2 separate regions of the Homo sapiens genome follow, and region 2 is linked to region 1. Evidence: fine-mapped QTL for protein levels in blood plasma. Region 1 holds a variant in brackets. A gene starts in the other region. All regions are shown on one strand. Distances are from middle to middle.

Region 1 (2,912 bases):
GACAAGGTATGAATGAGTACCACACAGGTGCTGCACATTATGCTTCTCCATCTGGATGAATAGTTATAATATCCTTTAATTCTATTGAAGCTTTGAAAACTTGATTTCAGCCTCATGAGACCCTAAACAAGAATCCAGATGAGCCACACCATACCTGGACTAGCCCATGCAAACTATGGGATAAATAAGTGTTGTTCTAAGCTGCTCCACTTGTGATAATTAAAGCAACAACAAGAAACTAATAAACTTGCCAACACATTAAAAGATAAAAACTATCGCTTCATATAAAGTCATTCTACACCAAAGTAATAGCACACACAAACTCAAGACACTGGAATCACATGGCAGCACCCTGTTATACGGCAAGACTCCAAATGACATAAAATGATTAAGTTAGCCATCTTTAGATTAATCGCCAGAATAAAAACACAAAAATTTTAAATTCCTGTAGAGAACTTTCAGATCTCCAAGCTATATTTCTACTCTCCAATACATGTTCATAACCTGTTTGATAATTACTGCCCTAAAAGATAAATTGATAAGCTTCAGAGAGAGCTGAACTAAGTGTGCAGAACTAATGAAACAGTGTGCAAAAACTCTATATATTGGGTATCCATGTTATTTTCTAGAGAAGATCCACTGATTGTCTCATTAGATCCTCAAAGATATTAAGGTTAAGACGCACTGCTTTGGCCGGGCATGGTGGCTCACACTTGTAATCCCAGCACTTTGGGAGGCCGAGGCAGACGGATCATCTGAGGTCGGGAGTTCAAGACCAGCCTGACCAACATGGAGAAACCCTGTCTCTACTAAAAATACAAAAATTAGCCGGCCGTGGTGGTGCATGCCTATAATCCTAGCTACTTGGGAGGCTGAGGCAGGAGAATCTCTTGAACCTGGGAGATGGAGGTTGCGGTGAGCCAAGATCACGCCATTGCCCTCCAGCCAGGGCAACAAGAGTGAAACTCTGTCTCAAAAAAAAAAAAAAAAAAAAAAGGAAGCATTGCTTTATAGCGTTTTTCTTTTTCATAGAGTTTTTGTTATTTGTTGTCTATGCTGCTACATGGGATGGGGTTACTGCTGGATCAGCTGGAGGAGACTGCTTCTGGGTGTCCATCTTTTCTAACATGCTCCTTCATTAAAACACATACAATCCACATATCAGAAATGACAAAGTGGTGTTAGCACCATATCCAGGATTCTAAGACCTACCTCTAGCAACATCTTCACATCCCAAGCATCCTTTTCTTCATTTGGGTAACTTTTTGCCATGTTGTAGTGCTTTTCACCAGGTTTTACCTCTTGTGGAGACTTGAGAATGCGAATCTAT[A/G]CTTAAAGAGATCATATACTTAGAACACTTCCAAAATAAGTCAGAAGGCTCTGAATACTGCATTATTTTATCTGTTCAAAAAAAGAATCGTTCTAGAAAAAAAACATTTTAAAACCAAAATTCATAAATTCTTCAGTACCAATATTCAATGTTTGAAACAAACAGAGAAGCATATGGTATGGAAAACATATGTCAATGAATTATTTATAATATTATAAATGTACTCTTAAATTTTCATATCCTCCATGTTTATTTTGAAAAAATAAGAACTTGGGTTACAGGAGCCTAAAATATTTATTACGACTACAGTCGACAACTCAGGAAAGAATAATAAAATATACATCTCTTTGTGCATCAAAGGAATAAAAGGCTAAGAATAGAGTCTTCTCCTTATACAGGCATTTCAGACAAATTCATATTAAACCTGCAAAGAAGAAAAAAAAAAGTAACAAAGGCTCCCATTAGTAAGTGTGAGATAAAGAAGGAAACCATGCTCAGCTCAGAGTTTCTGTGAGTCTCTCTGCCTGCCTGCCTGCCTGCCTGCCTGCAGAGAAGGCCCATTCTGGTCTCCTCTGCCACTGTGTGGTAAGTTTACTGGGGTGGACTCTGCAGTTTTGATGGTGGCTGGTCAAGGTCAAATCTGGGATAGAACTACTTAGAAGCCCACCATGATACACATCTAAACCACACCCTCCAATCCATCCTTCATCAGATGTAAAGAAGTTAATGTTTTAATCTCCTATATTATTCCTGTTTCTTCGACTGGTTCCAAATGCCTAAAGCAAAAAGAAAATTTACAGGTTCCCTGAAACTCAAACATGATGCAGCTATTTATAATAAAACAAGTGAAGCAGCTTTACATGCATGAACATGAAGTACTCTCCAACATACTGTGAAATGAAAAAGCAAGGTGTAAAAGTGTACTGCATAGCACCGTTGTGTCAAATACAGACATATACATACACTATACCTGCATACGACATCTCTAGAAAGATACATATGAAACTAGTGACATGAATGTCTTTGGGGAAAGGAACTGGTTTGACAATAAACAGGCTGCAGAGACTTACTTTTCACTGGCTTTTGTACTGTGTACATGTTACCTATTCAAATAATAACTTAAAAAGAAAATGCGTAACAGTGAAAGAGAATGAAAAGGGAAAAATAATTCTCTTAGTTTTATACAAGTAATATCAAAGTTTAACATTTATAAACATGGTGAATGATTTTTAAAAATTTTTTCAACCTCTAAATTCTATACTATATAACTTATAAAAATATGGTTTACTACAAAAAGCTTGGAAAAAAATAGAGATAACAATTTATATAATTTACATATCAAAATGTCTCTCTGCCCAAAGCAATACCCTTTGTCAGAAGCCTTTTTAATTAGTCCTAGCAATTTGAAATAACTTTTAATATGAGCTATTATTAAGATGACATTAATATAACATTACTAGACACACTCTGTTAACAGATTACAAGAAATCAGAAGGAGATATCTGAGAGGAAAGAACCTAAAGGTTCTGTATATATAAATACAGCCTTGCAAAGGTACACAGTATTTTTTAGTAAATTTTCT
Region 2 (2,912 bases), 200 Mb after region 1:
CCTTTGCCTGCCCAGGTACCTGGGGCTCGAGCTCTCCAGCAAGCAGTGGCCGCGCACCCATCGCCGCTGCCGCTTTCGCCTCGGGTGGATCCAGTGACCCGCAGGCTCGGCAGCCTGGCCGGGCAGTAAACAGACAAGTTTGAAGGACTCCGGCCAATAGCAAGTTGAACTACAGGAAGAACTCTTCCCGGAGCCAAACACGGCAACCGACGGGAAGGCCGGGCTTCTGGCTCAAGTGTGCCAAGCCTTTTTTTTTTTTTTTAAGAGGTCAGGCAGGCGAGTAAGCGCCCCTCAAGTCAATGGGGAGAGGGCTCCGGGAAGCCGGCGGAAGAGGCCCAGAACTCCGGGCCCCGGACCGAGGCGCGCCCGCCTGCTGCACTCCGGCTGCCCGGGCTGGGCGCGAGTTGCGTCTGACGCCACAAGGCTCGGGCGACTGGGGGCGCAGCGGTCGCCAGCAGCACACACAGGTGCAAAGCCCGATTTTCTGAGCGCCGCTCTCCACCGCCCTTCGGGCTCGGCTCGGGAGAGGCCCAGCCAGCACCGCCCCAGGACCGCGGCCCCGGCGGTGCGGGTTCTGCCCTCGGGGACCCGACAGGGACAGAAGAGTCTCCTCTGACTGGGGATTTGGGTCTCCCATGTCCCGAACAACAGGCGCCACCAGAAGGGATCCCGCTTAGGCTCCCAAACAAAACGCTCGGGAAAGAAAAGCAGGGGGTTAAGGAGAGAAAAGAGGGACTCAGAGTGATTTTTCACGATAAATAAAGCAAACGCACACATACAGGGTAAGTTTCAAATGGAAAGAGGGGTGACCGAAAGCCCAGGGAAGAGGCCCCGGTCAAGCGGTCCCTCCACGCCTCCCGGGATGGGTGAAGAGGGCAGGGGAGCCACTCGAGGCAGCCCCGCCGGCGGCTGCAGGTTCGGCGACCGGAGTGCCAGAAGGAACCCACCTGACTGAGAATCGCTGGGCTGGACGGTCCCCGCCGCCACGAGAAGGCTCACCCAGACCCAAAGTCCTGTCGCCGGCTTCATTTTTTGGAAGTCTCAGATCCCGTGCTGACAATTACATGTCCAAATGGCATATCCCCCTTTCGGGCACGCGGAGGAGATCCCCCAGCCGGGCGCGCGTGGGGGTGCGAGGGGGGCGGGCGCGGCGCGCGCGGTGTGGCGACTCCCAGGGCGGGCGACCGAGTCCGCGCCCGCGGGTCCAGGGCCGGGGCCCGAGGAGGGGGCGAGTGTGAGCGCGTGTGTGCGCGTGTGGGAGTGTGCTCGGTGTGTGCGCTTGGCGCTCTGGGCCGGACTGTGCAGCTATTTCCCCGCGTGAGCCTTCGCTTGCTCGCTCCCTCCTCACTTTCTCTCTCTCTCACTGGTTGGTCAACAATAAAAAAGGAAGGGGGGCGAAAGGTTTCCAAAAAAAGTTGATTGCAAAGAGGCGGTAGGTTTCCGGCCTCTCCCCGCAGCCGGGCTATGTTCTGCTCCTTCTTCAGTTTCCTTGCACCTCCAGTCCAAATCGGGAGGGGAGCGGGGCGGGGGGAGCTTCTCGCTTCTCCCCGGATCCCGTCCTTCTTTTTCCTCTCAGCTTTCCTCACACTTGTCCGGCGGCTGCGGTAATTAAAGCTCCGAGCGTCATTTCCAGCGCTCCGCGGTCTCCAGCTGCAGCCCACAGAGAAATTAATAAGACTCCAGAAAAAAAAAAAAAAAAGGTGCGGGGGGCGGTGGGAATAAAACAACCCTCCACGCAACCAGGCCGGCTCTGCTCAGCCGCGCAAACCCCGCCCATGCTCTGACCCAACTAGCCACGCCCTTCCCCCCCCCTTCCAAAGGGAAATCTTATTGGCTCAGCCACTCCCCAAAATCCTGGGCCTCCGGAGTTGGGAAAACACCTGTCAGGGAAAGGGAGCCTCTTGGTGGGGGCAGGGGAAGCTGGATTTAAAGGGCTCACCGAAGCCATGCACTGAAGCACTCGTCTTCCCTCCCTGGCAGAGGCCTGGGACAGCTGGCCTGCTGAGTGGACGGACCATTGGAGGGCCGCTTACGGAAATTTTTTTTTTTTTTAAACAAGAAAGTCAGCATTTTCTCCGTTGCCCCACGGTGCTCATCTACAGACAAGACTTTCCCTAGAAATAAAAGTCAATGTTGCTTTCAGCAAAAAGCCTCCGCCCGCAGTACTCTGCCACTCATGGTCCACAATTAGAAAGTACTTTAAAAGTGTGTACAGCAAGTAACTGGTAGCCCCTGAGGATTAGGTAGTGGTAGGGGTATAATCACCGCCCCGCCTCCCGCCCCCAGTTATGCCATCTCTCCGATTACTCCCACATTTCTAAACTGACCAACATTGAGCCAAACTAAACTTTCACATTTATAAAGGCATATCCTTTGATTTTTAGATTTTATGTTTTTTTTTCACCTTTGGAGTTCATTCTTATTAAGCAGATTCTAGTCCAAAGCCACTGATTTGATCTTAAAGGGCTAGAAATTGTCCCCAGCCTGAAAGAATTTAAGGAGGCCACATCAGAACATAATTAACCTTAAATGATTCTGTTTATTCTACAGTAGACCCAGCTTTAGGCCCCTTCCTTGTCCTCACTCTGCACATTCATGGTCCCTAATCTGGAGGTCATTGCTAGTTACGAAAGTCTCTGACCTTTTCTGAATCTAAAATATTCTGGGACTGGGTCATTTCAATGTACATATCCCTTGCCTTTTACAGCTCTGAAACCGCACCCTGGCAAGGGCCAGAATCTGCTGGGGGTAGTTATTGGTTTGCTATTTGTACAGGCATTCTATGTATGAATCACTTTCCTTTTTTGGTTTTTCTAGAAGCAGCAAATATATAAATAAAAAGTATCAGGGGAGCTTAAAAATCAAACCACCCTGCCTTTCATTTGAGACCTTGATCTCCATTTCCCACTCTC

Direction of the effects. Alleles are on the strand shown, and positions count from the first base shown. The strength of an association depends on the size of the effect and on how common the allele is.
In carriers of allele G in region 1, the plasma level of the protein whose gene starts at base 1,301 in region 2 tends to be lower than with A alone (weak association).

Evidence for each region. PIP is the chance, under the fine-mapping model, that this variant and not a neighbour inherited with it causes the effect. Protein levels are from antibody-based Olink assays in UK Biobank. Linkage for the fine-mapping came from a reference panel and not from the study's own genotypes, which makes the PIPs less certain.
Region 2: ERBB4 starts here. The variant in region 1 is fine-mapped to the plasma level of the ERBB4 protein (UK Biobank, PIP 0.96).

What each region holds. Positions count from the first base shown.
Region 1 is chr2:9,519,991-9,522,902 of GRCh38, forward strand. It overlaps ADAM17 (ADAM metallopeptidase domain 17), which reads right to left. Exons shown (of 19, transcript NM_003183.6): 8 at 1,213-1,326. Among named protein-coding and RNA genes, the nearest start is that of ADAM17, 34 kb to the right of the region's middle. The variant A/G (reference allele first, on the strand shown) is at 1,331.
Region 2 is chr2:212,537,502-212,540,413 of GRCh38, forward strand. ERBB4 (erb-b2 receptor tyrosine kinase 4) reads right to left here and starts at 1,301. Exons shown (of 28, transcript NM_005235.3): 1 at 948-1,301. The coding sequence starts at 1,029. RefSeq lists an enhancer at 1-332.